Homo sapiens: one gene and its partner. The protein of the gene in region 1 interacts with the protein of each later gene in a pairwise test. Each region holds a gene or a part of one and is shown in the gene's direction. Other genes may lie near its edges.

What was found.
Region 2: the proteins of TNFAIP8 (region 1) and EAPP interact in binary tests that used the Homo sapiens proteins (3 or more experiments, as listed by UniProt).

The regions. Positions count from the first base shown.
Region 1 is NC_000005.10:119,388,600-119,404,898, forward strand, and holds the end of TNFAIP8 (tumor necrosis factor alpha-induced protein 8), read left to right. Parts: intron 1-2,403; exon of another isoform or gene 2,404-3,572; intron 3,573-4,216; coding exon 4,217-4,782; 3' UTR 4,783-11,089; downstream 11,090-16,299. UniProt on the Homo sapiens protein: Acts as a negative mediator of apoptosis and may play a role in tumor progression.
Region 2 is NC_000014.9:34,523,985-34,541,113, reverse strand, and holds the start of EAPP (E2F-associated phosphoprotein), read left to right. Parts: upstream 1-1,412; 5' UTR 1,413-1,485; coding exon 1,486-1,559; intron 1,560-4,838; coding exon 4,839-5,020; intron 5,021-7,574; coding exon 7,575-7,670; intron 7,671-11,638; coding exon 11,639-11,756; intron 11,757-16,306; coding exon 16,307-16,417; intron 16,418-17,129. UniProt on the Homo sapiens protein: May play an important role in the fine-tuning of both major E2F1 activities, the regulation of the cell-cycle and the induction of apoptosis. Promotes S-phase entry, and inhibits p14(ARP) expression.

The DNA.
Region 1 (16,299 bases):
TTAGCAAAGAACTTACATGAAGCATCTTTTTTTTTCTTTTCTTTTCTTTTCTTTTCTGAGACAGGGCCTTGCTGTGTCGCCCAGGCTGGAGTACAGTGGCATGATTATAGCTCACTGCAGCTCTGTAGCCTTGAACTCCTGGGCTCGGGCAGTCCTCCCACCTCAGCCCCCTGAGCAAATAGGACTACATGCCCAGCTATTTTTTTTTTTTTTTGAGTTTTTTTTGTAGAGACAGGGTCTTGCTATGTTGCCCAGGCTGGTCTCAAAGTCCTGGGCTCAAGTGATCCTCCCACCTTATCCTCCTAAAGTGCTGGGATTACAGGTGTGAGCCACTGCGCCCGGCCCCATTTGCAAATTTCATTTCTTGAAACTCTGGCTGATATGTGAAAAGAGATAGAAAGGGGTTTGGACTAGGCTGCTGTCCGTGGAGATGGAGGGAAATGGATAGAATTCAGAGAAATGCAGGAGGAAGGTGGAATGGAAAGAACTTAATAATGGACTGGGTGAGGGAGAGAATGGTATGGTGGATGATCCCCAGGTCTCTGATTTGATTGAGCAAAAGGTTGGAAGGGATGCTATTAATTGAGATCATAAAGAGTGAAAGAGGAGCACTTAGTAGGGAGGCAGGAGAGAATCAAAGATCAGTTTTGCATATGGTAAATTTGAGATGCCTGCAAAATAGTCAAGGAAAGAAAAATCTTGAATGCACTTACAAAATGAGTCCAGAAAAGAGGTCAGGGCTGAGTTATGGCTATGGGAGTCATTGGCACATGGGTGGTATCTGAAGCTGTGGCAGTGGATGAGATCACACAGGGGTGAGGATAGACTGAAGGAGAAAAACTTGATCCAGGACTAGCTCTGAGATACACCAGACTTTTAAGGGATCTGGTAGAGCATGTGGAACTGACAAATGAGCCTGCACAGGAATGGCTAACAGCAGTTAATTTGCAAGAAAAAGAAACAAACTTCATGAGCACAGACCACACATCCCTGGCCAGCGACTCTCAGCCACAAGCCCCAGTTGGCTTCAAAAAAACTTTCTCTAATGCTGGAAAATAAATCTACTCATGCATGTCTTCTTGGTGGAGGGGGAGAAAGAGCTTCAGATGGTGGAGGGGAACAAGGAGCTTCAACCTCATTTAAAAAGACGACTTCACTGGAATAACCCAAAGAATAAAAGGAAAGTGTGACACAGCTGCTGTGTTTCTGGAGCGGGGTTTGAAGTTCCTCTAGGATAAATATGAAAGCCTCAGAGATCAACTTCTCTATCTTGATTCATACTTGATTACCAGTAAATGGGGAATGATCTTGCTTAGTTGGCAGTAGATTTGCCTGTTACACACTCTCTTGCAGGAAGTTGAAGTGCTGTATCATAGAGTTTTTGTTTTCCATGTTTGAAGTTAAATGGGATATTGAGATTTAATCAGAAAAGTAGCTGAGAAGAGGTGTAAACATGAAAGTCCAGTCTTGGATAAAGGAGAAATCTTATGAATACCTCTCCCTCTGGTTTCAATATTTCACAACATAAAGTATGTCCAACTGATAGACTTGTAGTAAATCCCAGGTAAGATATTTGTAGACTGTGCCATGTTCTAAAACATTAAAAAAAAACACAATAACATTTCAACTTTATATGTAATATATTACTGAAATCCTGGTTATCTGCTGAGTAGCTGAAAATGGTTGGGTATCCCTATATAAATCAAGTTTATTGATTTTTTTTGAGGTCTATATCAGGAGTTCTAAGATGAAATATGGTCCCTGGTTTTAATGTGATACTGTTAGCTACATGGATGCCATTTCTTTTGACATAAATTCTTTAGTGTGAATTAATCTTTATACTCTTTTGCAAATCATTGAAGAATAGGAATAGAAACAGATTTCTGCTTAAATGATAAAAACATAAAACATTAAATGATGGAAACTTCTCCATAAAGTTGGCTGTTTCTCACACATTTTCACTTTCCTTCTCTTTTTCAAAATATATTTTAGTTCTTCTGCAGTTTCAGTTCATGTTTCAGAAGTTTAAATTTCGACATTTGTGAGGGGACCCTTTCTTATTCAATCAAGACATTCTTTGAGTGGATGTATGGCACTGTATATTTATAAATGATGTTCAGGTCATAAGGAACCATTTTGCAGCTGCCTCTACTATATACCACGAACTACTTTGGTCCAAATTTCAAATCTAATTTGGTTCTTCTTTTCCTCAATTTTATTTAATTTTAATTTTTTCTGAGACAGGGTCTCACTTTGTTGCCCAGGCTGGAGTGCAGTAGTGCAATCACTGCTCACTGCAGCCTCAACTTCCCAGGCTCAGATTATTCTCCCACCTCCAACTCCCTAGTAACTGGGACTACAGGTGCATGCCACCACACCTGGCTAATTTTTTTTTTTTTTTTGTAGTTTTTTGTTGCAATGGGGTTTTGCTATGTTGCCCAGGCTGGTGTCAAACTCCTGGGCTCAAGTGATCCTCTCCCTACCTGGGCCTGCCAATGTGCTGGGATTTCAAGTGTGAGCCACCACACCCCGCCTTTCCCCAATTTTAAATCCAACATGGCAGTTCTGGATTAAGGGAGTCACTCTTCCTATATGTCTTCCCAGTCTGGATTTTGAAGCAGCTGCCTTTTTGCTTCCTAATGATGCTAGCCTATCCAAACTAGAAATAATCTTATATAATCATTGATGCCTTGACTCATTTGTATGTATCTGTATTTTTAAACTTTTTATCTTTCATTACCAAATGACTGCTTTCTGATACCCAGGCCTAGGCTTAAACACTGGCATATATGGAGAGAACAGTTGCCACTCGACTCAGAGATTGAGTAGACACCCAAAGAACTGCAGTTCTTAAGCCTTAGGAGAAGCGAGAGAAATGGGCCAGGTGCGGTGGCTCATGCCTGTAATCCCAGCACTTTGGGAGGCTGAGATGGGCAGATCACCTGAGGCCAGGAGTTCGAGACCAGCCTGGCCAACATGGTGAAACCCCGTCTCTACTGAAAATACACAATTAGCCGGGCATGGTGGAGGGTGCCTATAATCCCAGCTACTCTGGAGACTGAGTTGTGAGAATCACTTGAACCCGGGAGGTGGAGGTTGCAGTGAGCCAAGATCACGCCATTGCACTCCAGCCTGGGCAAAAAGAGTGAAACTCCGTCTCAAAAAAAAAAAAAAAAAAAGATTGCTACATGCATGGAGTGGGGAAAATTGTGGTAGAAGAAAAGTAAACTTGGTTTGGAGAATAAACATTTATTGAGCATTTTCACTTGACCAGCTCTAAGGTGGGAAGATTACATATAGTGTCTGTTTAATATTTAATATGTATAGCCATTATTATGTATATTGTAAACATCTGTCAGAAGTTATAATTCCAAAAGTAAACTCTAAGCAACAGCTTTTTCAAAGTATATTTTTCATGTAGCACATTTCATTAGCTCATGAAAAGGTTATTTCCCCAAAATGTGTAAAAATGTAAAGTGAACAATGGCCATTCATCAGAAATAGCAAGTGACAATGAGCTCTCCAAGGAGCACTTCTTTTCAACACTCGACTTCTGGAGGCTGAAATTCAAGGTACTTAGGACAGCCAAATTGGTAGGCACTGGCCAATGTCTTGGGAAATTTGACTTTTTGCAACCGGATTATAAAACAAGGCTTTCCTTTTGATTTGCTTAATCTGCCATTTTACTCAATATTATGGCTTTGCCATTTGTTCTTCTTCCATTTAAATGAATTTCTTTTAAATCGCTTGTGGTTGCTGTTGCCCAGATGACAGGTATAGAGTTGATTTTGTATTTTTTTTTTTGTTTTGAGACAGAGTCTCGCTGTGTCACCCAGGCTGGAGTGCAGTGGAGCAATCTCAGCTCACTGCAGCCTCCGCCTCCTGGGTTCAAGCGATTCTTCTGCCTCAGCCTCCTGAGTAGCTGGGATTATAGGTGCCCACCACCACGCCCATGTAGGCCGGGCTGGTCTCAAACTCCTGATCTCAAGTGGTCTGCCCACCTCAGTCTCCCAAAGTGTTGGGATTACAGGTGTGAGCCACTCCACCCAGCCAAAAATTCTTTTCTGAACAGAGACTAATGTCGGTAGATGTAAGACAAACCACAAATGGTGGGAAAATGAGGAAAAAAAGTGCTCCCAAATACCTGTTTTTAGTTCGCTTCACTTGCTGATATTTACTAATTGTTAATTCTTTTCCTCTCTTTTTTTTTTTTTAGTGGCCACAGATGTCTTTAATTCCAAAAACCTGGCCGTTCAGGCACAAAAGAAGATCTTGGGTAAAATGGTGTCCAAATCCATCGCCACCACCTTAATAGACGACACAAGTAGTGAGGTGCTGGATGAGCTCTACAGAGTGACCAGGGAGTACACCCAAAACAAGAAGGAGGCAGAGAAGATCATCAAGAACCTCATCAAGACAGTCATCAAGCTGGCCATTCTTTATAGGAATAATCAGTTTAATCAAGATGAGCTAGCATTGATGGAGAAATTTAAGAAGAAAGTTCATCAGCTTGCTATGACCGTGGTCAGTTTCCATCAGGTGGATTATACCTTTGACCGGAATGTGTTATCCAGGCTGTTAAATGAATGCAGAGAGATGCTGCACCAAATCATTCAGCGCCACCTCACTGCCAAGTCACATGGACGGGTTAATAATGTGTTTGATCATTTTTCAGATTGTGAATTTTTGGCTGCCTTGTATAATCCTTTTGGGAATTTTAAACCCCACTTACAAAAACTATGTGATGGTATCAACAAAATGTTGGATGAAGAGAACATATGAGCACATGAGTTAAGATTGTGACTGATCATGATTTATTTGAAGATGGAGCACTGCTGATTTATGAAGGAAAAAAGAAGAATTTTCTAAAGATTACACATATTTCAGAAAGACTTTACCCAATTCAGTTGTCAGACATAATGATTTATTTGAAGGCTTGTTTTATTTGAAGAAAAGCATATTGCCAAAAATTCTGGTTAAAAGCTTCCTAACGGGTAACAGACCATGGGAGAGATATGTGGTTGGGTAATGCAAATGTAGTTATACAAAGAAAAATACAGATGTCTCCAGACCTGAGGACTTTTTAATAGGGCAGTTGTTGTGTTGGTGGCACATTGGATATTTCTAACATGTACAAAGCTATGTATTTTGATTTACTTTCATTTCTTGCTATGTATATGTACTTTTCTTAAAATGCCAAGAACTTTCTCTTGCTATCATTGCTCCTTTTGAAACAATTCAATTTTCATGTCTACAGCTGACTGTTTTGTTAAGATTGAGTCATCGACATTCAGGATTTAAGTCTGAGGTAGTCAACCCTCAGGAAAAAAAAAATGGCTTATCTGAAATCAGTACTGTGGAAATGAACTATATTAGCTATTATGAATAATGTCCAGTATAAGAATATGCTTCTGGAATTGAGTTCTCCTTTTAAGTACCAATGATACTTAAATTTCTCAGAAATGTAATGGTGTGTCATTGCCTTGAAATGCTTGCTTAGGGCTTCTTTTATGTTATCTTAAAAAGTGCTGGTGAATTTTCCATTTTTTACATCCATTTCACATGTAAGAGACAAAAAAGTCTAGATTGGTCTTGATATTGAGATAATAAAAAGTAAGTAGCATTAAGAAAGGTAACAATCTTCATTCTACAGATGAACTCATTGAAACAATTTAGGGGAATGAGGGGCAAAAGGGGAGAAATACTGCTAAAGAACATGAGCATAAAAATGCGTGCGTTTCAGTGTTTAAGAAGGCTTGATAAAGAATGTCACTTTTTTATTTAACTGATAAGATTTTTGTTATTTTTTACTTTGATAAGTAAACCAAAGAATATTTGTATTTCAAGCAGTTTGTGTGGTGTTTCTATATAATTTTCTGTGTATAAATAATAAAGTAGGCATTTGTTTATTTTGTAAAAAAGAAATGAAAATCTGCTGGCCAGCTATGTCCTCTAGGAAATGACAGACCCAACCACCAGCAATAAACATTTCCATTGTCACTGTGTCTATGATTTTTTTTTTTTTTTTTTTGAGTCTCGCTCTGTTGTTTAGGCTAGAATGCAGTGGCATGATTTTGGCTCACTGCAACCTCTGCCTCCCAGGTTCAAGTGATTCTCCTGCCTCTGCCTCCCAAGTAGCTGGGATTACAGGCATGCACCACCACACCCAGCTAATTTTTGTATTTTTAGTCGAGATGGGGTTTCACCATGTTGCCCAGGCTGGTCTTGAACTCCTGACTTCAAATGATCTGCCTGCCTCGGCCTCCGAAAGTGTTGGGATTACAGGTGTGAGCCACTGTGCCTATGATTTAGTGTACTCTCTTGCCTTAAATTTGCCTGCCTCCCAGAATATTGACATTAAAATAATAGTTTACCAGGAAAGGTTCCACAACTAAAAATTCCAGAAGTTGAGATCTGCTCTAACCCATTTCAGCCTAGAGAGGGTGGTCAGTTTCTCTGACACCCTCATTTGCTTGGCTAAGACAAGCAGCAAAGGTGTAGAGTTTCTTCCTGTTTGATATTAAATCCTGACACTAAGATTTGAACTGAAAGTATCATTCTCACTTCCTAGAGCCAGTAGGTGATCAGTATATGCTGTAACAATAACACAGTGACTACAGAAATGACCCTTCTAGCTTCATAACTTGCTAAGTGGCTTATAAATGGAATTCAGCAGCCTTCCTTGACCAGCTGTTTTCCTCACATGTGAAGGCTGAGAATGTGATGGGGGGTGTGAGCTACTGACTGGATGTGTTCTGTTCTCCAGATCTCAAACAGCAGAGGTATGGGAAACGAAAGCCCTGGGCAGTCCATGGATGCTTCTTGCTCATCTGTAGCTATAGACAGGACCAACCAGAGAGAGAAAACGTACGGAGGGAGAAATCTGGATCTCTCTGGACACACTGGATCATAGGGTTGTGCCAGCAGGCTAGCAATCAAATGTGCATGGGATTGGGGGAGCAATGCTTCATCTCCCACAGAGGGAAGGCAGTGAGGAGTAGACCGAAGGAGGGAATCCTGTTTGCTACCATTTCTCAGCATTTTCTGGAGGGGACCCATCTCCTTACCAGTGCTGTGCCTGAAAAGCATGTCTTGGATCAGGTCCAAAGTCGTGATTAGCAAGTTCATTTCTAATACAATAGGACTCCCCTTGAGCATTTAGGGTGGCAAGGAGCGTGGGAGCTGGGAAGAATCCCCACGTGCTTAGGGTAGATAAATCTGAGCCGAGTTAATACTAATTTGGGGATCCTATGAACCTTTTTATAAAATAGTATCTGTTCACGTTTTGAAAAAAATTGTGTTGTAATTGATTTTATTTTGTGCTGGTGGCTTCTCTGCAAAAATTATGAGTGGATATGATAAGTGGATGATAATACTAATGGACAACTAACGCAGAGTAGTTTGTATTATGTGTCGGGCACATTAACTCATTTAATTCTGCCACAATCTTCACCATCTTATAGATAAGGAAACTAGGGGAATAGAAGTTAAGGAATTTCCTGAGGTCACATGTGCTCGAGGTGTCCCAGCCGGAATATGTATAAAATCTTATTTTCACTTAAAGATGATATGGCTAAAGGCAGTGCTAGGAACATCTTTGGCTCAGAGAAGCGTGGGCAGTATGCTGCTGAAATGGTTCCTCATATAGTGACATTTTAGGCAGTACCTAAGTCAGCACAGGTCTGGCCTGTTCTCTAAAGATCTGTGTAGATGTTGTACAAAGACATTTTTCAAAGTTTTCAACATGACTCCTACTTTGGGGGCATCTTGTGGCTCAGTTTTCTGTCTCGTGGAACTTCACTTCTAGGTGCTCACAATGACTTTTAACGTTGACTTCTGAGGTGCAGTGAGCTGCTCCCCCACAGCTGTCCCTAGCAGTGGTGGGTTCAGAGCATGACAAGGCACTCAATGTGCATTCACCAAGAGAAGCAAGGAAGCAGCAGTTCAGTACTGTGCTCCCTAGAGTAGGCACGGCATCAGTTTCAAACTTCAACATTATTTTCCAGATTTGGAGGCTCAAAATATTTGAGCAAGTTAAGTTAAGAAATAGCCTTTTTCTGATTATTAGGCCTTTCATATACAACTCAAAATTAGTTTAAGAGTAAAGCATGGGGTGGGTGCGGTGGCTTATGCTTGTAAGCCCAGAACTTTGGGAGGCGGAGGTGGGAGGATCACTTGAGGTGAGGAGTTCGAGACCAGCCTGGCCAACGTGGTGAAACCCCACTGCTACTAAAAATACACAAGATTAGCCAGATGTGGTGGCAGGCACCTGTAATCCCAGCTACTTGGGAGGCTAAGGCAGGAGAATCGCTGGAACCTGGGAGGCAGAGGTTGCAGTGAGCTGAGATTGTACCACTGCACTGCAGCCTGGGCAACAAGAACGAAACCCCGTCTCAAAAAAAAAAAAAAAAAAAAAAAGCATGAGTTAAGAACTTTGATCGTACAGAAATATTGCGTTTTAAACTCTTATATAATAGTATGCCATTCACAATTATCTGGAAAGTTCTTTTTCTCCCACCATGTGAATACACACACACACACACACACACACACAATTTTTAAGCCCCCAAAGGCTTAAAATAGTACTTTTTGTGGTCTGTACCGGTCAGTTGGATTTTTACTAAGAATTTTAATTTATCCTTGAGATACTTGATGAGTGTATATAAGCAGTTGCAATTTAGCATACAAAACCTGACAAATGGTAAATAAAAGAATATGTTTATCCAAATGATGAAATATTTGTAGTAAAAAGTGCTATTCAATTGCCAGGAAATTAAAATACTCCAGTAAAATGAATTAAATTAGCATGTTAATAAGAGTGATAATATTTAAAAGTTTTAGTCAATCTTGCATTTCCATACTTGCATTATCTAAACTAGTTGAACTTTTCAGTGTTTTACTTGATATATTGCATTCTTGAGCATTAGGCTTCTAGGTGATTTGTTAAACTCATAGCAGGTTTTAGTACACAGTGCTGTTTATGACAGAAAAAATTTTATCCTACCTCTGAAATAATTGTACTTTCTGTGATTCAGATAAAAACTTTATAGAAACTCCCTAATGAAAATATTGAAGCATTAACCAGAAAATGAGTCAGCTTTTTGTTTCCAAAATGATGCAACAGGAAAACCTTTAACTACTTATAATCCCGTATAGTCACCATCACCACGAAGTATTGAAAATCTGTTTTCTCTTTTACTAAGTGTCTGCACGGTCACTTATGTATACCCAAAGCCAGAAAGATATTTTTATCTCAGGGAAATTCCAGAAATGGAAACATTTTTGTGTAATATTGATTCATTTCTGTCTCACCAAAGATGTGTTTTCCACGTAGCAAAGAACATCAGCCCCACGTTATAGGGAACAAGCGAGTCCCAAATCGTACCATCTGCTGAGCACTGAGAAAGGATATGGACAAGTCAGTCAGCATTCACAATTAAGAGAAAAACATCTGTGCTTTGGAAAATGTTCTTCAAGGATAGAGAATTGTGCCCTATGTCCACCAAATTTGCATGAGATCTTTATAAGATTAGACAGCCAGTGGATAAGGCCCCTTATCTTTCTTCATGGATGGCTGAGGAAATTCTCCGCCTTCCCTGACATCAGCTGCATAACTGTATTTCTGCCTCGTGGAAATAAAGTAGATGATCAGGCACTTGCGGTTTGTTCTTAATACAAGAAAGACAATTTGATTTTTAAAAGTTTTGATTTGTAGAATAATGTAAGACAATATGTTTCTTTCTACTTTGGTTTTTCCATTCAAAAGCTTACAGATGAATTCATTCGTTTAAAACTGCCAGGCTGAGTGCGGTGGCTCATGCCTGTAATCCCAACACTTCGGGAGACTGAGGTGGGCGGATCACCTGAGGTCCAGAGTTCAAGACCAGCCTGACCAACATGGTGAAACCCCATCTCTACTAAAAATACAAAATTAGCCGGGTGCAGTGCCACATGCCTGTAATCCCAGCTACTTGGGAGGCTGAGGCAGGAGAACCACTTGAACCCAGGAGGCAGAGGTTGCAGTGAGCCAAGATTACACCACTGCACTCCAGCCTGGGCAACAAGAGTGAGACTTTGTCTCAAAAAAAAAAAAAGAAACTCTGTCTCGAAGTAAATAAATAAATTTTTAAAAACCAACCTGATGTGAAGTTGAAACACAAGACGCGGAAATAAAAACTCAGAGTATAAATATCTATATTGTTACCATTATCTGGGATAATTGATGATTTATAAGAAGCTGAGGTTTCGTCTTCCTAGAAATGGACTTTTATTAGGCCAGCAAGAATGACCACTTAGCCATTTAAATGATTTGTCAGCATCTTTTGCTGCTCTCTTCTAAGACCATTGGTTTTCACTAAAGGATAAATACCTGCTAAGCAAATTATAAAATACTATAAGACATTTAATCTCCTGGAAGAGGACTTGCTGATAATTGGATCAAAGTTCCAGCATTATTGCTCTTTTCGAATCATATGGACTTAGTGTTCTCATGACCGAGGAGTCACATTTTTAGCTTGCTAAAATATTCACTGGAGAACATGGTGAAATCCACGAGTGGAAACGTTCCATGGTATTTTCAAACGCCACGTGTCAGGAATTTGGCATGCCTTCCTCTGGGAGAGGCACTGGAGTGTGGCCAGATGGAACCCAGCAGGGTACAGAGGGCATTTGTGGGAGCAGTTAGGAAACCAGGACGTCCAGCTTCTGCCTGCCAGGGAGCTCGCTCATGTTGTCTCTGAAATTTGCATAAGAGCAATTACCTCATATTCTAATTTTAAAGATACAATTTTTAAAGACATGGAAGGCTCTGAGACCTCCTGAAGGCTATTCCTATGTGAGGTATTGTTTACGGGTGGCCTTTCACTATTTCCAAATCAGCGATGAAAAGAAGACTGAGTCTAAAATAAATGAAGCAACAGACTTCAGCAGCCTGAGAGAATTTTGTTCAATTCCAGTCTCCTTAAAAAAAAATCGGTTTTTGCTTTCAATTTAGGAAAATTGTTTTGGGTTGCATTGTTGAAAGTAATGATTTCTAGCAGCTACTTATGTATAATCTCTTAACCAATTAAATTCTGAATCTCTTAAATCACTTGATTATTCATGCTGGTTTTAGTTATCCACTGCTGTATTATAAGCCACCCCAAAATTTAGTGGTTTAAAACAACAACCATTTTGTTCCCGCTCACAATTCTGTGCGTTGAATGTGCTCACCTGGGCAGTTCTCTGATTTGGGGTCTATCATGTGGTTGTGGTCAGATCATGGCTGGGACTGGAGTCTTACAAAGATTTGGCTGGGACACCTGGATGACTGGGCCTCTCCTCTCCCCATGGTCTCTACTTACTACTTACTAAGAGCACCCCAAATTGCAAGAGCAGAAGTTTCCAGGCATTCTTAAGGCTGATGCCCAGAACAGGCACAATATCATTTCTGCCTCATTCTACTGGTCAAATCAAATCACAGGCTGTATTGGGGTCACCAAGACACCCTCAGGTTTGATGATTCTCTAGAAGGACTCAGAAATCTCAGAAAAGCTATTGTACTCATAGTTATGGTTTATTATAGCAAAAGGATACAGATGAAAATCAGCAAAGGAAGAAGGCACATAGGGCAGAGGCCAGGAGAGACGAAGGTGCAAGCTTCCAGCTGTCCTCGACCAGTAGAATTTTATAGACAGCACAAAATTTTCCTAGCAATGATGTGTGACAACATGTACAAAATATTGCCAACCAGGGAAGCTCACCCCAGCCTTGGGAGTCCAGGGTTGTTAATGAGGCATGGAGCACTCACATGACTAACCTTAGTTACTCAGGCTCCAGCCCCTCCAGAAGTCAAACTGAAACAGGGAGGCCCAGAGCTCCAGGTGAATATCATAAATCACATTGTTAGCATAAACAATGTGTCATGGCTCAAGCCCTAGGCATACAAAGGCACTCTTATCAAGCACTATATTCCAAGGGCTTGGAGACTGTCTCCCAAGATCTAGTCAAGGGCCAGTCCTTTCTTTGGAATTTGCAGGGTTCGAACTTCCCAATCTTGCTGAGTTAATCCTTTACTGCACACAGGCTCAACCTGGGTTTAGTACAGGAGGAACTACACAAGGGCATGAATTCTGGGATGCATGGCTCTTTGAGGCCATCTTCGAAGACTAGATGCCATATGATTGTTTCCCACCCTCTTGGCTCCAGCAAAAACAGAATTCTTGGGGAGTCTGGAGTTCTTCACATAATAGTTTGTTTTTAATTGGAAACAAATATATAAAATAAGGGTGGACTAACCTGAATGTAGTTAATAACTACATTCCTGTCCATGTGAACATGTGAGTCCTGACAAGTTAATCTACGTAATTCAAGAAATGATGATTAAACAGCTACTATGTGCCTAACGCCAGGCTGTACCCTGGAACTATGCAGTAACACCTAGTTCTTTACTGACTGGTGGGGACACTTACAATGCACAGGTAACTTAATACCGAACGGGGCTTCCCACGATGCAGATGAACCTAAGAAAGGCTTTTTTAGCCCAGCATAGGCTTTCTGATGTAACAATTTTCAAACAGTGTTTTGAGCTTTAAACTGATATTTTAAAAGCAATAAGCTCAAAGTAGCGGCCGATTTCTTTTTCAAAATCAGTGGCAAGTATGTGTGCTGGGGGCGGGTGGGGGAGGTGGTATATGTGAGACAGTATAAGTAGAAGATAAAATGGGCCATTTTTCCTTTATTTTCCTTTATAAATGCATGTTCCATGCATTTCCTTTAGTTCCTGGGCCCAGTGGCTCACACCTGTAATCCCAGCACTTTGGGAAGTGGGCAGGTCACTTGAGCCCAGGAGTTTAAGACCAGCCTGGACAACATGGCAAAACCCTGTCTCTACTAAAAATACAAAAATTAGCGGGGCATGGTGACATGCACCTGTAGTCCCAGCTACTCTGGAGGCGGAAGTGGGAGGATAGTTTGGATGGCTTGAGCCTGGGAGGCGGAGGTTGCTGTTAGCCAAGATCTTGCCACTGTACTCCAGGCTGGGCCACAGAGCGCAACACCTGTCTGGGAAAAAAAAAAAAAAAAAAAAGCTTACAAGTTATTTTTTTTTTTCAAAATAATAATGGTTATAAAAAGCCCCTGGCAAAATGTAGATTATAAATTCTACTGAATGGAAGAATGTAAAATAATATTTTAAACACTTTTTTTGGTTCATTTTGTTAAAAAACAGAGTTTTGCTCTGTTGCCCAGGCTAGAGTGCAGTGGTGTGATCATAGCTCACTGCAGCCTCGGCCTCCCGGGCTCAAACGATCCTCCTGCCTCAGCCTCCTAGGACGTTAGGCACTTGCCACCACACCCAATTAATTTTTAATCAACATTTAAGTAACATCTTATTTAACATTCTGATTCTTGGGACTATCTGAGTAATAGCAACATGGGAGATGCTTTTAACATTTTAAAATCGTTTATCTAGAAATTAGATTGCAGCCTGATTTATGAAGCTGCATAAACTCTGACTTCATATCCTTGTGCCCAGTGAAGCATATGTGTGTCCCTTGACCCCTCAGGCCAGGACACAGAAGTACATGGTTGAAGAGGTTCAGTTTGTGACTAGCCATGCCATAGGCCCAGATCTCAGTGGGTACTGCTCACCATTTGGTTCTGTCTGTTGGCTTGTCCCTATGACTACCCTGAGCTCCCTGAGTCTTGAAGAAGAAACATTAACAAAACAATCCATCCTCTTGCTGGCAAATGACTGGCAATCAAGCTCAGGAACACAGCCCTGAGGACAAAGCGCAGTGTGGGGTTGAGGCTGTGGCTTTCCCTGGGGCTCCAGACAAGACAAGGATCTTTTTCTTTTCACTCCCTTACATTCAGAGAGTTGGAGTGCAAGGTCCTTTTTTGAATGAATTACAAGACTTTCTAACACTTGCTAATTCATGAAAGAATTTTACAAAAATATGGGCTTTTGTAGTTCCAGTTTTAGTTTTAAAAATTGTAATCTCTTGACTAAACTGTGTAATTTCAACCAAGAACAATAATATAAACATGGCTGATTGCTTAAAAACCTACCCTATGTTCAGAATCAATTTGGCTTTTATTAGCAGGTCGAGAAAGATGTCTACTCTACTCTATTCTGCCTTCAAGTAGCCTTTGCCACACTCCCCTCCCCCAGACTCTAAAAGAAACAAACCCACCAACCGGACGTTGGCTCCCCACTCCTTTCAGCTTAAGGAAAGGGAAAGCTACTGTCTTGGTAAGAGACTCTGACTTCCTGGTTACTGTTAGCAAGAATTGAGTTCGGAATTCAAGACAAACTAAGCTTTTCAGTCTTTTTCCAATGGTAATTTCAATACATCTGTTTTCCCTAATAGCTCATCTTTAATTCCTCTGTTTAGTTCTCATAAATCTTCCATTCGTATATAAAGTTTCCTATTTTAGAAAAAGAGCCTGAAGTTCTATGTTGATGTGGTTCTCGTCACATAAATCATCGCAAGCCCAAGGAGCAAGAGATCAACCAGAGTGTCTAAGAAGCATGGTTTGGTTGCTCCTTTCCCTTATCTTTTGTGAGTATTTTCTGTAAATGTACTTCCAAGTAGGACTTGTGTTTTCCACTGACCGTGCTTCACACTAAACTACAGGAGTTGGGGAGTTCCAGCCCTGCCCGAGGGGAGTGGCATTCATAAACGTGTGTGGCTAATTCAAATTGGACAGGGTCAAAGATTCTTCTTTTTCCTTTAAACTTAAAAAAGTTATTATAGACTCATAAGAAGTTGTAAAAATAGTACGAAGAGTCCTGTGTCCCTTCATCCGCTTTGTCAAATGGTGACCTGTAATGTAGTACAATATCAAAACCAGGAATTGACACTGGTATGTTGGTGCTAGACTACAGACTTCCTTAGTTTTCACTGTTGTATAAATGGAACCATACAGTTGTAATCTTTTCAGATTGGCTTTTTTTTACTAAGCATAATACCCTTGAGACATAGCCAGGTTGTTGCATGTATCAGTAATTGATTCCTTTTTATTGCTGAGCAGTATCCTATTGCATGGATGCACTAGAGTTTATTCAACCACTCACCCATTGAAGGATATCTGGGTTGTTTCCAGTATTTTTCTAGCATGAATAAAACTGCTATGAATATTCATCCATAGGTTTTTGTGTGAACATAATTTTTCATTTCTCTGGAATAAATAGCCAAGGGTGTGATTGCTGAATTGTATGGTAAAGACTGCAAAAACTATTTTCCAGAGTGGCTGTGCCATTTTACATTCACACTAGAAATGTATGAGAGACTCTGTTTCTCTACATCCTTGCCATTATTTGACATTACCATTATTGTTTACTTTAGCTGTTCTAATAAGTGGGTAGTGATATTGCATTGTGATTTTAATTATGATATTGAATGTCTTTTCAGGTGCTTATTTTTTTGCGTGCTGTTTTGTTTTAAATTCCATGCATTTCCTTTAGTTCATTCTTTCATTTATTTCCCTCCTCTTCCTCCTTGCCCCCTCTTTCTCTTCTTCCCTTTTCTTCTTTCTCTTCCTCATCTTCTTCTTCCTCTTCCTCTCAGTAAACTTACTGAAGTTCAATATACAGAAAATCATAAGCGTACAGTTCGAGAAATTTCTCACAGAGTAAACATAACTATTAACTAGCAACCACATTAAAAAGCAGAACATTTCTATCACCCAGAAGTCCCCCACCCAAGGTAACTACTATTTTGACTTCTAGAGATTTGTTCTGCCTATTTTTGAACTTCATGTAAATGGAATCATTCAGTATATATATACTCTTTTGTGTCTGGTTTCTTTTACTTATAAGATTCATCAAATATTTTTAAATAACCTCTAAGACTGACTGACTACCAATTTTAGGCAGCAAACACCATGAGGATGCTCTCCCAGGTATGTTGTAAAGTCAAATATAAGAGTGTAATACCACTCTCAGCTCCTTGCTCACTTGAGCCTAATGCCAGCAATCAAGCCAACAATAGTTCTAAGGCCTGATAAACACCAAACGCCAAATACTGTATGGGATGATGATGATCATGGTGCTTATAAGTATATGCTGAAATACAAACAACTGAACCAATCCCCTACTTTGTATAGTTTCTCCTTGGTTCATCTTTTTTTTTTTTTTTTTTTTTTTTTCTTTTTTGAGAAGGAGTTTTGCTTTGTTACCCAGGCTGGAGTGTAGTGGCACAATCTTGGCTCACTGCAATCTCTACCTCCTGGGTGCAAGCATTTCTCCTGCCTTGGCCTCCTGAGTAGCTGGGATTACAGACACATGCCAGCACGCCCAGCTAATTTTTGTATTTT
Region 2 (17,129 bases), on another chromosome or scaffold:
TTGTAATATAACTACTGGCGATAGTATCCTATTTGTATGCCAACTTTCATCTCAAGTATTCTGCTTTTCTTTCCCCACAGACAAACAAGTGTTGTTCTTTACAGCAGACCTCTTTCCCTCTACATACCAATCTATCCACTCGCATAACTACTAAGTGGCTCAATGGCCTATGTCTCATGCTTAATTGGCTGAGCTAGGCGCGGAATCCGGGAAACCACAACAGACTGTACTCTGCTCCTGTATTTCAGGAATAACTGTCACTAACCTGCTTCTGTCCGATTCCACCTTCTATGAAGTACACACAGAGGAGCAGTTCATTCTTTTGTAAAGGGATTGGTGGACTTTGTTCGAGATGCCATTTCAAAAGAAATGAGAAAAAAGAAAAACTAAGACCTGCACTGTAAAGCATAATACAGGAGTAGATTTATTACAGCTACTCCACATTTTAGAGAGTGCCACAGTGTCTCGGTAGGAGGCAGGAACCCGAGTTCCTGGTTCAGAAACAGGGTTAGAAACAGTCTCCCGATGGAGCTCAAGTGGCTGTCATCTGCCTGTTCTCCTCAGGTATCGAGTGGGATCAGTTGAGGGCTGAGCAAAAGTGGGGACTGGGAAGATGACGAGAAAAGATAACTTTTCGTAGATTGTTGAGGCCGCAGTCAGACTGAGGAGTGAACAGTGTGAAGGAGAGGTTGAGAGCCTCATGGTGTGGAAGGCATAAGGGTTAGAGGCGAGGTTGGAGGGATGTGGGTGCTGGTGTCTGAGGACTTATTGGATTTCGGGCTGTGTGTCCCTCAGCGTCTAGATTCCTGCTTCGTAGGTGATGAGACGCTGCATGTAGCATGTTCACCTCAGAGACTGTCACTTATGAGGGTGCCCATCATTATTATTTTTGGTGACAAGGTAGCTGCTATTTTCCTGTAAGCAGAAGCTGCGGAAGAAAATGGTGGGATTGGCCGGGAGCGGTGGCTCACGCCTGTAATCCCAGCATTTTGGAAGGTCGAGGTGGGCGGATCACCTGAGGTCCGGAGTTCGAGACCAGCCTCAACATGGAGAAACCCCCGTCTCTACTAAAAATACAAAATTAGCCGGGCGTGGTGGTGTATGCCTGTAATCCCAGCTACTCGGGAGGCTGCGGTAGGAGAATTGCTTGAACCTGGGAGGCGGAGGTTGCGGTGAGCCGAGATCGCGCCATTGCACTCCAGCCTGGGCAACAAGAGCGAAACTCCGTCTCCAAAAAACAAAACAAAACAAAAATGGTGGGATTAAGACCCGCCCCCGTCCCGTCCCCGCCCCTTTTCGCTCCTGCTCCGCCCCTTCCCCGCCTTCTACCTGCCTCCCTCGGTGCTGTCGGTCTGCGCGGGCGCGCAAGGGGGACTGGGACGTTCAGGCGGAAGTGGCGTCAGGGGCGCTTTAGGGACTGGACTTGCAGTGTAAACAGAGACGCTGCAAATTGCTTGTGGACGGTGTAGGCCGCTGCAGGCCACCATGAACCGGCTTCCGGATGACTACGACCCCTACGCGGTTGAAGAGCCTAGCGACGAGGAGCCGGCTTTGAGCAGGTGGGCTCCCGCCCCACCCTGGCCCCCGAGGATTTGGGTCGAGGCCTGGCTTTGGTCGCCTCCATTCGTTGCGCCTGCCGAGCCTACGCAGACCCTAGCGGCTCGGGAGCCTGTCGTGCCTGTTACTTGTGCGAAGCCAAAGGGCTTTCCTGATGGGGTCGCGCAGTCCCGGGGGGAGGCGGTGCCGATGTCGCCTGTAGGAAGAGGGATATTCCGGAATCACGGGGGACCGCGTGTAAATCTTCAAAAGCAATGAGATCGAAACCTGTCTCTACACCTTAGTAGCAGAGTGACGGAAGGCAAGTCAGTTATCCTCGATTACTCACCTGTAAAATTGAACTATAATAACATAATTGTATAACCTATATAACATAGTATAACACACTATGTTTGTTGTGAGGCTCACAGGACTTAATGTGAAGTGTCCATCTTGAAGACTAAACTGCCATAAACAGAAATAAGGGAATATTGAACAGCCTTTTTTATTTTTATTTTTTGACAGGGACTGTTGTATGCTCGCTCTGAGCTACAGAGATAAATCATAAGGTCCTTGTCTTCCAGAGGCTTATAGTATAATAAGGGTAATAAGATAAAGTATATATTTCTTGGCAGAGCATTGTAGAGAATATTGACCTGAGATAGGCACAGAAGAAGGTTCGTGGGATTTCCAGAAGGGTGGGCTTTATTCTACCAGGGAAACTTGAAGCTGTTTTGCCGAGATATTTCCACACAAATTTAGTTATTTCTTAAGCTGTCAGCAGATCCTATTCTTAAACTTTAAAACATTCATTCTGCCTAAAGAAGCTTTCTGTAAAGCCATGCTTTCATTAACAACTTTGGCTGGGTGTGGTGGCCCATGCCTGTAATCCCAGGACTTTGGGAGTCTGAGGCGAGAGAATCTCTTAAGCCTGGTAGTAAAGGAACAGCCTGGGCAACATAGTGAGACCTCATTTCTTAAAAAAAAAAAAAATCAAAAGAACAATGTTTCCTCATATTGTCATGGGGAGACATTGGATGCATGGGAAATCAGACTGCTGTTAAGATTTCTTTTGTTGGGAGTGAGGATAGATACCAGGATTCCCTGTGAAAAAGAGTTTCAGTTAATGGGTCCTGTCTGTGAAAGGAGGTATGTATATATGTATGTCTCAATTATTTATTTATTTATTTATTTATTTTGAGACAGAGTCTCACTCTGTCAGCCAGGCTGGAGTGCACTGGTGCAATCTTGGCTCACTGTAGCCTCCACCTCCTGGGTTCCAGCAATTCTCCTGCCTCAGCCTCCTGGGTAGCTGGGATTACAGGCATGCGCTACCACACCTGGCTTATTTTTTGTATTTTTCGTAGAGATGGGTTTTCACCACGTTGGCCAGGCTGGTCTTGAACTCCTGACCTTAGGCAATCTGCCTGCGTCGGGCTCCCAAAGTGCTAGGATTACAGGCCTGAGCCACGGAGCCAGGACTGTTGTATCATTTTTTTAAGGAAGCTTTATAATTCTGTGACAGTTGCCACTGGTAAGGTAACTGTAAAGATAAATATTATAAAAACAAAACAATGTTATCAGACAGTATTGCCTGTTGTAGGCTCTGAGCCAAATGGTTATTATTTTAAAAAGGGAGATTAGTGTTAGAGAGGTGTCTGTCAGTATTTAATTTTACACTGTTTATAAACTAATACATTGTAGCCTGTTAACTGTTTCACGGTAGCTGACCGAAGACATGAGACTCCTGGGTCAAAGATAAGACTACACATAGCACAGCAAGCAGCATGAGCATCATGTTTGTGTGGCTTGCTCTTGCTTGTCAACCCTACAGGTATTACGCTGAGGGTCCTAGAAGAATGCTGCACATTCAGTGGGTTGGCATCGTGGCTAAAGACTACTTGAGCTTGGAGAATCCACCTCTTTCATAGAAGACAGTAAATACATCTGCTCTTTGTCCTGGAAGGAGACATTATCTCATTCCTCAAGGTTGTTGTTCGCTGCAAACACAATCCTGAGAAATGGCTGGAGTGAACAGTGGTCAGAACCTTGCATTCTTGGCATACTTAACTTGCATATCTAGGGTCCATGATGTATGACTGCCTTTCTCAGCAGTGCTGAAAACTGAGACTTTGGTTGAGATAATGACAAGGATTGAAGAAAATTTGTAGAAAAAATAGCTCTCACTTTGTGATTCAGTTTTTAAAAATTAAACATTTTATTTTGAAGTTTTCGTAGATTCACATTCAGTTATAAGAAATAATACAGGTCTGGTGCAGTGGCTCACATCTGTAATCCCAGCACTTTGGAAGGCCAAGGCAGGAGAATCACTTGAGCTCAAGAGTTCAAGACCAGCCTGAGCAACATGATGAAATCATGTCTTTACTGAAAATACAAAAAATTAGCTGGTATGGTGGTGCATATCTGTGGTCCCAGCTACTCAGGAGGGTGAGGCGGTTGGTTGGCTTGAGCCTGGGAGGCGGAAGTTTCAGTGAGCCAAGATGGCACCATTGCACTCCAGCCTGGGCAACACAGGGAGACCCCCATCTCAAAAAATAAAAAATAATAAAAAAAAAAGAAATAATACAGAGAGATCCTGTGTACTCTTTCCCCAGTTTCCTCCAGTGTTAACATACTACAAAACTATAGTGCAGTATCACAACCAGGATATCTATCTATCTATATATCTATCTATGTATTTTTTGAGACGGATTCTGAATCCTGTAATCCCAGCTACTTGGGAGACTGAGGCAGGAGAATCGCTTGAGCCCAGGAGGTGGAGGTTGCGGTGAGCAGAAATCATGCCACTGTACTACAGCCTGGGCGACAAGAGCGAGACTCTGTTTCAAAAGAAACAAACAAACAAACAAACAAAAAAACCATCCTGGGCAACATGGCGAAACCCCATTTCGACAAAAATTAAACAAAACAAAACAAAACAAAAAAACAGCTGGGAATGGTGGTATGTGCCTGTAGTTCCAGCTACTGGGGAACCCGAGGTGGGAGGATTGCTTGAACTGGGGAGGTGGAGGTTGCAGTGAGCTGAGATCATGCCACTGCACTCCAGGTTGGGTCACAGACTGAGATGCCATCTCAAAAAAAAAAAAAAAAAAAAAAAATTAAAGAAGATTGGAAATATGCAGAACTGGCTTATTAAGTGAGAATAGCTATATGTAATGTATAAGTACATCAAATGTAACCATGTAATACTTAAAATTGTTGTTGGACAGTGAGATGCTGGGAGTTTAAAATTATTTTAATTTTTAAATATTCATATTCTTTTTGATTTAAATGTATGCTAGCTCTGAGGATGAAGTGGATGTGCTTTTACATGGAACTCCTGACCAAAAACGAAAACTCATCAGAGAATGTCTTACCGGAGAAAGTGAATCATCTAGTGAAGATGAATTTGAAAAGGAGATGGAAGCTGAATTAAATTCTACCATGAAAACAATGGAGGACAAGTTATCCTCTCTGGGAACTGGTAAACTTTTGGTTCAATTTTATATATATTTTTGTAAGCTCTGTAAGGGCAGGAACCTTATTTGTGCTCTTCTATGTTCCCAGCACTTTCAGTAGGTGCTCAATAAATATTTATTGAATGAAGGAGTGAATGTATTTGGCAGTCTGAGCTAGAGTCTTCCTTTTCTCATTTAAAAAAGTTATTTATTTATTACTTTAGATTCAATGTCTCATTCTGTTACCCAGGCTGGAGTGCAGTGGCATGATCATAGCTCACTGTAGCCTAAAACTCCTGGGCTCAAATGATCTTCCCACCTCCGTTTCTTGAATAACTGAGATTACAGGCATGTACCACTGTGCCCAGATAATTAAAAAAAAAATTTGGGCCGGGCACGGTGGCTCACGACTGTAATCCTAGCACTTTGGGAGGCCGAGGCGGGCGGATCACGAGGTCAGGAGATTGAGACCATCCTGGCTAACACGGTGAAACCCTGTGTCTACTAAAAATACAAAAAATTAGCCGGGCGTGGTGGCAGGCGCCTGTAGTCCCAGCTACTCGGGAGGCTGAGGCAGGAGAATGGCATGAACCCAGGAGACGGAGCTTGCAGTGAGCTGAGATCACGCCACTGCACTCCAGCCTGAGCGACAGAGCGAGACTCCATCTAAAAAAAAAAAAAATCTGTAGCGACCGGGTGCAGTGGCTCACACCTGTAATCCTAGCACTTTGGGAGGCCGAGGTGGGTGGATCACCTGAGGTCAGGAGTTCGAGACCAGTCTGGCCACCATGGCGAAACCCCGTCTCTACTAAAAATACAAAAATTAGTTGGGTGTGGTGGCACGTGCCTGCAGTCCCAGCTACTTGGGAGGCCGAGGCAGGAGAATTGCTTGAACCCGGAAGGCGGAGGTTGCAGTGAGCTGAGATCGCGGCACTGCACCCCAGCCAGGGCAACAGAGTGAGACTCCGTCTCAAAAAAAAAAAAGGCCAGGCGTGGTGGCTCATGCTTGTAATCCCAGCACTTTGGGAGGCCGAGGCAGTGGATCACGAGGTCAGGAGTTTGAGACCAGCCTGGCCAATACAGTGAAACCCCATCTCTACTAAAAATACAAAAATTAGCTGGGCTTGGTGGCACGTGCCTGCAGTCCGAGCTACTCAGGAGGCCAGGCAGGAGAATCGCTTAAACCCGGGAGGCAGAGGTTGCAGTGAGCCGAGATTGTGCCATTGCACTCCAGCCTGGGTGACAGAGCTAGACTCCGTCTCAAAAAAAAAAAAAAAAATTTGTGGAGACAGGGTCTCACTATGTTGCCCAGGCTGGTCTTAAACTCCTGGCTCAAGTGATCTTCCTGCATTGGCCTCCCAAAGTGCTGGGATTATAGGTATAAACTATTGTGCCTGGCTTGGAGTTTGTTTGATGACTGTCTTGTGTTCTTGGAAAGAGATTAGTTAATACTGTTTACTTGCATAATTTTATTTTGCAGTTTTTACTCGAGTTAAAAAAAAAAGACACACAAACTTACAAAAGTATTTTTAGGGTTAGATGGCACTAAAATGTGGCAGATTTAATTATGTATCATCACAAATTTCTGTTTCACTTTAGTGAGTAATGAAACATAGTTCATTTTGATACTTGGTCTTTATGTAAAATGTACCTGACCTGAAAACTGGTTTGTGAAAGTAGGACTCTTCTGCCGGGTGCAGTGGCTCACGCCTGTAATCCCAGCACTTTGGGAGGCTGAGGTGGGTGGATCATGAGGTCAGGAGCTCAAGACCAGCCTGGCCAACATGGTGAAACCCTGTCTCTACTAAAAACACAAAAAATTAGCTGGGAGTGACGGCAGTTGCCTATAATTCCAGCTACTCGGGAAGGTCAGGCAGGGGAATCACCTGAACCCAGGTGGCAGAGGTTGCAGTGAGCCGAGATTGTGCTATTGCACTCCAGCCTGGGCAACAGAGTGAGACTCAGTCTCAAAAAAAAAAAAAAAGGAAGTAGGACTCTTCAGCATTGATTTCCACCCTGATATGCTATGTATTAGCTGGAAAAATCTGAAAGCATATAAAAATATAATAAAAACTAAAGCAGATGCTAACTAAGAGGAATTAGGGATATGGGCATATGATGACATAAGTATAGGTAATGTCATGGTCCTGGGCACAACTGAGGAGAAGAATGTGTCCTTGACTCATTCCTCCTGCCTTCCTATAGGGTTCTTACCCTTTTTCTCCTAATGTTTCTTAGAACAAAATGTTTGTTCTATGTTCTGCATGGTATACTGTATGACTGAAAGGTAGAGATATGTGTGCTGGCAACCTGAAAATATCGCTATTTTATTTAATGAGATTTGTGGGAAGGGAGAGAGAAGAATTTTCTCAAGATTTGGAACATTTTAAGGAGGGCCAGTTCTCTGTAACTGTATAGGGCATAGACATCGAGTAATTCACTGATGTGAAAATATTTCACCATCAAATGAGTTTGTGAATGAGTTGATATTGTTTTGAGGTGATGGAAGAATATATGGAGTTTTTTGCCTTGTGAATTATGTATGATTTAGTCTGTAAACTTTACTTCTGGTTTGAATAGGATCTTCCTCAGGAAATGGAAAAGTTGCAACAGCTCCGACAAGGTACTACGATGATATATATTTTGATTCTGATTCCGAGGATGAAGACAGAGCAGGTAAGTAACCTATTTACCAGGTTTAGCAGTTATATTTTATAAAAAAGGTTTACCTAACAATTATTAGATGTTAGGATTTCCCTCTGAGTTTGGTCTTTTAAGAAATTACAGCTAGGCATGGTGGCTCACACCTGTAATGGCAGCACTTTGGGAGGCTGATGCAGGCAGATCACCTGAGGTTGGGAGTTTAAGACCAGCCTGACCAACTTGGTGAAACCCCATCTGTACTAAAAATACAAAAATAAGCCGGGCATGGTGGTGCACGCCTGTAGTCCCAGCTACTTGGGAGGCTGAGGCAAGAGAATCAGTTGAACCCAGGAGGCGGAGGTTGCAGTGAGCTGAGATTGCACCATTGCACTCCAGCCTGGGCGACAGAGTGAGACTGTCTCAAATAAATAAATAAATAAATAAAGTGGATGCCATTGATGTGAAAACAAAAGCAGGATTGATTAATAAGAAAAACTGGGGGCTGGGCATGGTGGCTCACGCTTGTAATCCCAGCACTTTGGGAGGCAGAGGTGGGCAGATTGCCTGAGGTCAGGAGTTCTAGACCAGTCTTGCCAACATGGTGAAACCCCATGTCTATTAAAAATACAAAAAAATTAGCCAGGCTTGGTGCCATGCACCTGTAATCCCGGCTACTCAGGAGGATGAGACAGGGAAGTTGCTTGAACCAGGGAGGTAGAGGTTGCAGTGAGCTGAGATCGCATCATTGCACTCCAGCCTGGGCAACAGAGTGAGACTCCGTCTCAAAAAAAAAAAAAAAAAAGCTGGGGACACAGGCATGTGAGGACATGGCACCAACAGTGGTGCTGCTTGGATGTACCTAGGGAGTGAGAGAGAGTGTGTCCCAACTCAATACCTCCCCTCCTCAGGGCTTTTCCCCCCTCTTCCTTTAGGTTTCCTATAGTAGCAATATTTGTTTTCATGCCTGAAAATAGTTTCTATGTTTTAATCCTCCTGCAGAATTTTTTTTTTTTTGAGATGGAGTTTCGCTCTTGTTGCCCAAGCTGGAGTGCGATGGCACCACCATCTTGGTTCACTGCAACCTGTGCCTCCCGGGTTCAAGCAATTTTCCTGCCTCAGCCTCTTGAGTAGCTGGGTTTACAGACGCCTGTCGCCATGCCTGGCTAATTTTTTGTTTTTTTAGGAGAAACGGGGTTTCACCATGTTAGCCAGGCTGGTCTTGAACTCCTGACCTCAGGTGATCCACCCGCCTCAGCCTCCCAAAGTGCCGGGATTACTGGTGTGAGCCACCGCGGCCTGGCCTCCTCCTGCAGAATTTTTCTTAATGCGTTGATTTTTAATCAGCCTCTATGTTCAAAATTGAATTTTTCTTTCTTTCTTTCTTTCTTTTTTTTTTTTTTTGAGACGGAGTCTCGCTCTGTCACCCAGGCTGGAGTGCAGTGGCGCAATCTCAGCTCACTGCAAGCTCTGCCTCCTGGGTTCACGCCATCCTCCTGCCTCAGCCTCCCGAGTAGCTGGGACTACAGGCGCCCGCCACCACACCCGGCTAATTTTTTGTATTTTTAGTAGAGAAGGGGTTTCACTGTGTTAGCCAGGATGGTCTTGATCTCCTGACCTTGTGATCCACCCACCTCGGCCTCCCAAAGTGTTGGGATTACAGGCGTGAGCTACTGTGCCCGGCCTGAAAATTGAATTTTTATAAAATTTGAGCAAAGTTGAACATAACAAGAGCTAAAACTAATTATTTCAGTAATTACAATGAAATATTCAAATAGCAAATTTCTGTGGTAAAGAACAATATTATACTTTTATGCATTGTTACTTAAATATTGACCTGTTAGAATGTATGTGTTTGTTTATTTATTTATTTATTTTGAGACAAAGTCTCGCTCTATCGCCCAGGCTGGAGTGCAGTGGCGTCATCTCAGCTCACTGCAAGCTCTGCCTCCTGGGTTCACACCATTCTCCTGCCTCAGCCTGCTGAGTAGCTGGGACTACAGGTGCCCGTCACCACGCCCGGCTAAATTTTTGCATTCTTAGTAGAGATGGGGTTTCACTGTGTTAGCCAGGATGGTCTCGATCTCCTGACCTCGTGATCCGCCCGCCTCAGGCTTCCAAAATGCTGGGATTACAGGCATGAGCCACCGCGCCCAGCCTTGTTTATTTATTTTTTAGGCAGAGTCCCACTCTGTCACCCAGGCTGGAGTGCGGTGACACAGTCTTGGCTCACTGTAGCCTCTGCCTCCTGGGTTCAAGCGATTCTGGTGCCTCAGCCTTCCTGGTAGTTGGGACTACAGGCACAAGCTACCATACCCGGTTACTTTTTGTATTTTTAGAAGAGACAGGATTTCGCCATGTTGGTCATGCTGGTTTGAAACTCCTGATCTCAGGTTGTCTGCCCACTTTGGCCTCCCAAAGTTCTGGGATTACAGGCATGAGCCACCACTCCCTGCCTGCTAGAATACATTCAAAAAGTCTAGTGTATGTAGATGGCCATAGTTTTTTTTTTTCTCTTTTTTTTTGTTTTTTTCCTCTTCCTTTCTTTCTTTCTTTTTTTTTTTTTTTTTTTTTTGGTAAAGATTGGGTCTTGCTTTGTTGCTTAGGCTGGTGTCAAATTCCTGGCTTCAAGCAATCCTCCCAAAGTGCTGGTATTACAGATGTGAGCCACTGTATCTGACCTCATACTGTTTTTTTTAATTCACTTTTGAAATATTTTTGTTCTAATTTTAGTAGCATTTTATATATATATTCATACATCATAAATAATTTCTATTCTTGGCTTGTTTTGAGTGGCTCTTTTGAGTCTCTGAATTCTCATTGTTTGAACTTAGTCCTTGAGATACCAGTTTTGGGTAAATAAACAATTTTTGCCTCCTCTGTCATTTTAATGCCTTATTAGTTGGAGAAGAACTTTATTTTTTAAATTTTTGTTAAATTTTTTACTTTTTTAGAGATAGGTCTCACTCTTACCCAGTCTCCAGCAGTGCAGTGGTGCAATTATAGCTCACTACATCCTCAGACTCCTAGGCTCAAGCCATCCTCCCAGCTCAGCTTCCCTAGTAGCTAGGACTACAGGTGTGCCTGGCTAATTTTTAATTTTTATTTTTGTAGAGATGGGGTCTCATTATGCTGGCCAGGCTGGTCTTGAACTCCTGGCCTCAAGCGATCCTCTTGTCTCAGCCCCTCAAAGCTCTAGGATTATAGGTTGTGAGCTACCGCACCCTACCTGGACAAGCACTTGTTTAGATGAAGGGTTTTTTTTAACTTTTTTTTTTTGAGACGGAGTTTTGCTCTTGTTGCCCAGGCTGGAGTGCAATGGCGTGATCTCGGCTCACCACACCCTCCACCGCCTGGGTTCAAGTGATTCTCCTGCCTCAGCCTCCCAGGTAGCTGGGATTGTAGGTGCCTGCCACCACGCCTGGCTAATTTTGTATTTTATTTTATTATTTTCTTTTTCTTTGAAACGGAGTCTCGCTCTCATCACCCAGGCTGGAGTGCAGTGGCACGATTTCGGCTCACTGCAACCTCTGCCTCCTGGGTTCAAGCAGTTTTTCTGCCTCAGGCCCCCAAGTAGCTGGGATTACAGGTGCCTACTACCATGCCCAGCTAATTTTTATATTTTTAGTAGAGAGGCGGTTTCACCATGTTGGCCAGGCTGGTCTCGAACTCCTGACCTCAGGTGATCTGCCCACCTTGGTCTCCCAAAGTGCTGGGATTACAGGCGTGAGCCACCGCACCTGGCCCTAATTTTGTATTTTTAGTAGAGACGGGGTTTCGCCATGTTGTCCAGGCTGGTCTCGATCTCCTGACGTCAGGTGATCCACCCACCTTGGCCTCCCAAAGTGCTAGGATTACAGGTGTGAGCCACTGCGCCCGTCCCTTTTTTAACTTTTTAGGGAAAATATAAATAAATGTGTAGCTTGGGAAATGAGACTCTTCATTTAAAGAAGTGTGAACTTGACACATGATTCTTAGCCATATCCTAATATTTTCAAAATTAGTACAGGTGACCAAGAAAAAAAAGAAGAAACAACACAAGATTCCAACAAATGACGAATTACTGTATGATCCTGAAAAAGATAACAGAGATCAGGCCTGGGTTGATGCACAGAGAAGGGGGTAAGAACTTAAAGTTAATATTTAGAATCTTTAGAAAAAAAGATTGAAAGATGATTTTTACTACATTCACATTTTGAATATATGTGTATATGTTTACACAAACACACACACACAAACAAAAAAGTTAGAGGAAAAAACTGCTCAGTAGTTTATTTTGAAAATAACCAGCAAATTTTAGTGAGACTTTTTTTTAAAATTTTTTAAATTTTTATTATTATTTTTGAGACAGAGTCTTGCACTGTCGCCTGGGCTGGAGTGCAGTGGCGCGATCTTGGCTCACTGCAACCTCCGCCTCCTGCGTTCAAGAGATTCTCCTGCCTCAGCTTCCCGAGTAGTTGGGATTACAGGCGCCTGCCACCACACACAGCTAATTTTTTGTATTTTTAGTAGAGACCGGGTTTCACCATGTTGGCCAGGCTGGTCTCGAACCCCTGACCTCGTGATTCACCTGTCTCGGCCTCCCAAAGTGCTGGGATTACAGGCTTGAGCCACTGCATCCAGCCCGACAATTGTTTTTTTGTTTTTTTTTAAACTTGTTGAATTTAGGCTGCGTTAGTCAATCTCTCCCTCAAGAAAAACTGACTTTTTTTTTCAGATGCTGTTTTAAATTACTTTGAGATTAAGAGTTTATGTGGATGGGCCAGGGTGGTGGCTTATACCTGTAATCCCAGCAACTTTGGGAGGCCGAGGCAGGTGGATCACCTGAGGTCGGGAGTTTGAGACCAGCCTGGCGAACATAGTGAAACTCTGTCTCTACTAATACAAAAATTAGTGGGGCCATAGTGGCGCACACCTGTAATTCCAGCTACTCAGGAGGCTGAGGCGGGAGAATTGCCCAAACCTGGGAGGTGGAGGTTGCAGTGAGCTGAGATCACGCCACTCCACTCCAGCCTGGACGACAGAATGAGACCCTATCTCAAAAAAAAAAAAAAAAAAAAAAAAGGGTTTTGTGGATGAAGAGTGGATTTAGCAAATTGTTCTTTTTAACTACTTACAAATTTGATTTTTAAAAATTGAGATGAGGCTGGGCATGATGGCTCACACCTGTAATCCCAGCACTTTGGGAGGCCAAGGCGGGCGGATCACTTGAAGTCAGGAGTTCAAGACCAGCCTGGCCAACATGGCGAAACCCCATCTCTACTAAAAATACAAAAATTACCTTGGCATGGTGGTGTGTGCCTGTAATCACAGCTACTCTGGAGGCACAAGAATCGCTTGATCCCAGGAGGTGGAGGTTGCAGTGAGCTGATATTGTACCACTGTACTCCAGCCTGGTCGACTGAATGAGACTGTCTCAAAAAAAAAAAAAAAATTGAGATGAGGCTACTCTAGGTACACTGCTTATGGAGTAGCCCTGCTCTGCAAGGAGCAGTTAAAAATTTTTTTTGAGATAAAATTCACATAACAAAAGTACCCACTTTAAAAGTGAACAATTTAGTGGCATTTAATACCATTCACAATGTTGCACAGCCACCACTTTTATGTAGTTTCAACCATTTTCATCATCCCAAAAGGAAACGCTGTACTGTTAGGTAGTTTCCCTACCCTTCCCCTCAGCCCCTTGGCAGCCACTGATCTGTGCACTGTCTCTGTGGATTTGCTTATTTTAGATATTTCTTATGAATGGGATATTATACAGTATGTGACCTTTTATATCTGGCTTCTTTCACTGGGCATAGTGCTTTTGAAGTTCATCTACATTTTAGCACATGTCAGTACTTCTCTACTTTTTATGACTGAATAGTATCCCATTGTATGTGTATACCACAATTTGTTTATCCTTTCATCCACTGAGGGATGGATGTTTGTGTTGTTTCCACACCCTCTGCCCCCACCTTTTTTTAAGAGATGCCTGGGCTGGAGTGCAGTGGTGCAGTTATAGCTCACAGTATCCTCAAACTTCTGGGCTCAAGCACTCCTCCTGGTTCAGCTTCCTGAGTAGCTGTGACTGTAGGCACACACCGCCTCCCGGGTTCAAGCACTCCTCCCACCTCAGCCTTCTGAGTAGCTGGGACTATAGGCACACACCACCTGGCTAATTAAAAAAATTTTTTTAATAGAGAGGTCTAGCTGTGTTGCCCAAGGTGATCTTGAACTCCTGGCCCCAGGTGATCCTCCTGTCTTCACCTCCTGTGCTGGCATTACAGGTGTGAGCCATTGTGCCAGGCCATTTTTTTTTTTTTTTTTTTGAGACGGAGTTTTGCTCTTGTTGCCCAGGCTGGAGTGCAAATGTGATCTTGGCTCACCGCAACCTCCTCCTCCCAGGTTCAAGCGATTCTTCTGTCTCAGCCTCCTGAGTAGCTGGGATTACAGGCATGTGCCACTGCACCTGGCTAATTTTGTATTTTTAGTAGAGATGGGGTTTCTCCATGTTGGTCAGGCTGGTCTCGAACTCCTGACCTCAGATGATCCACCTGCCTCGGCCTCCCAAAGTGTTGGGGTTACAGGCATGAGCCACCGCACCCGGTCATTTTTTTTTTAATTTAAAGACAGGGTCTTGCTGTGTTGCCCAGACTGTAGTGCACTGATGCTATCATACCTCAATGTAGCCCTGAACTCCTGGGCTCAAATGATCCCCCTGCCTCAGCCTCCTGAGTCCATGCTTGTTTTTTTTGTTTCTAATTTAATTTTTAATAGACACAAGGTCTTGCTATGTTGCCCAGGCTGATCTTAAACTCCTGGGCTCAAGCAATCCCCTCCTACCTTGGCCTCCTTAAGTGCTGGGATTAAAGGTGTGAGCCACCATGCCCGGTTTATGCTTGTTTATTTTTATTTTCATTTTTTTTTTTATTTTCTTATAGAGACAGGGTTTCACCATGTTGCCCAGGCTGGTCTCAAACTCCTAGGCTCAAGTGATCTGCCCACCTTGGCCTGGGATTACAGGTGTAATTCCAGCCTGGCTCTATGCTTGTTTTTGTTTTTGTTTTTTTGGGACAGAGTCTCGCTCTGTTGCCCAGGCTGGAGTGCAGTATCGCAATTTCGGCTCACTGTGACCTCCACCTCCTGGGTTCAAGCAGTTCTCTGCCTCAGCCTCCCAAGTAGCTGAGATTATAGGTACCCGCCACCATGCCTAGCTAATTTTTGTATTTTTAGTAGAGACGGGGTTTCACCATGTTAGCCAGGCTGGTCTTGAACTCCTGACCTTGTGATCCACCCACCTCAGCCTCCCAAAGTGCTGGGATTACAGGCGTGAGCCACCATGCCCAGCCTGTGTGCTTGTTTTTTAATGTAGCTTTACTGTTTTTAAAAAATTCATGGACTTTTATTTTTGGTACACTTGTCACAATTAATGGACTAATATTGATACATTATTATTTTTTTTATTTTTTATTTTTTTGGAGACAGAGTCTCGCTCTGTCGCCCAGGCTGGAGTGCAGTGGCGTGATCTCGGCTCACTGCAAGCTCCGTCTCCTGGGTTCAACCGATTCTCCTGCCTCAACCTCCTGAGTAGCTGGGACTACAGGCATGTGCCACCACGCCCAGCTAATTTTTGTATTTTTTTAGTAGAGATGGGGTTTCACCATGTTGGCCAGGATGGTCTTGATCTCTTGACTTCGTGATCCGCCCGCCTCGGCCTCCCAAAGTGCTGGGATTACAGGCGTGAGCCACCGAGCCCGGCCTTGATACATTATTATTAATCAAAGTCCATAATTTTAAAACATTTCCTTAGTTTTTATGTACTGTTCTTTTTCTGTTTGAGGACCCCGTGTAGGATAGTACATCACTTTTAGTTGTCATGTCTCCCTGGGCTCTTCTTGACTCTGTCAGTTTCTTAGACTTTCCTTGTTTTCAGTGCCCTTAATTACTTTGAGGAGCACTAATCAGGTCTATGTAGGAGGCCCCTCTGTTGGAATTTGTCTGTTGTTTTTTCTCATAATTAGGATGGGATTATGGATTTTTATAAGTAAGAACATAGAAGTAGAGAGCCATTTTCCTCACATTATATCAAGAGTACATACTACCAACCTGAGTTTTGTGTGTTGGTATTGACCTCGATCACCTTGCTGACCAGTGTTAACTTTCTCTACTGTAAAGTTAGTCTTTTACCCCGCCTTACCATACCGTACTCTTTGGAAGGAAGTCACTGTGTCCAACCCAGACTTAAGGACTAGGGAGTTATACTCCACCACTGTGAGGGAAGAGCATCTTTATAGATTATTTAGAATTCTGTGTGGGGATTTGTCTGTTCTCCTCCATTTATTTATTTATTCAGTACATTTATATTAGCGTGGATTCGTGGGTATTTATACTTTGGGTTGTAATCCAGTCCTACTTTATTTTGTTGCTCAGTTTCAGCTTTGGCAGTTGGTGACTTGTTCAGTTGGCTCCTGTTTCCCTTTGTCATAACCACCTCACTGTTTTGTTTTTGTTTTCTTGATTACTTCCTTCTTTTCTGGCACTAAAAGATGCTCCAGGTTCATCTTGTGTTCCTTATTCCTAGAATTAGCCATTTCTCTGAATAGTACTGGTTCTTTTTATTGGAAAATGACACTAGAAACCAAGATCTGGTTTTAATATGTTTTTCTCCCCACTTTCTTCTTCTGTTCTAGTTACCATGGTTTGGGACCACAGAGATCACGTCAACAACAGCCTGTTCCAAATAGTGATGCTGTCTTGAATTGTCCTGCCTGCATGACCACACTTTGCCTTGATTGCCAAAGGTAATGGATGAAGGACACACACACACACACACACACACATACATATTTTGTTTAAATTAGAAACAGACTTTTTTTTTTTTGAAGTCAGAGTCTTACTCTGTTGCCCAGGCTGGAGTGCAGTGGCACAATCTCGCCTCACTGCAACCTCCGCCCCGTGGGTTCAAGCGAGTCTCCTGCCTCAGCCTCCCAGGTAGCTGGGATTACAAGCGGCCACCACCATGCCTGGCTAGTTTTTGTGTGTATCTAGATCTAGATCTAGATCTAGATAGATAGATAGATAGATAGATATAGTTTTGTTTTGTTTTGTTGAGATGAAGTCTCACTCTGTCGTACAAGCTGGAGTATAGTGGTGCAATCTTGGCTCGCTGCAACCTCTGCTGCCCAGGTTCAAGTGATTCTTCTGCCTCAGCCTCCAAGTGGCTGGGATTACAGGTGCCTGCCACCACACCCGGCTAATTTTTGTAGTTTTAGTACAGACAGGGTTTCACCATCTTGGCCAGGCTGATCTTGAACTCCTGACCTTGTGATCCACTTGCGTTGGCCTCCCAAAGTGCTGGGATTACAGCTGTGAGCTACCACGCCCGGCCTTATTTTTATATTTTTAGTAGAGACAGGGTCACACCATGTTGGCCAGGTTGGTCTTGAACTCCTGACCTCAAGTGATCTGCCCACCTCGGCCTCCCAAAGTGCTGGGATTACATGCGTGAGCCAC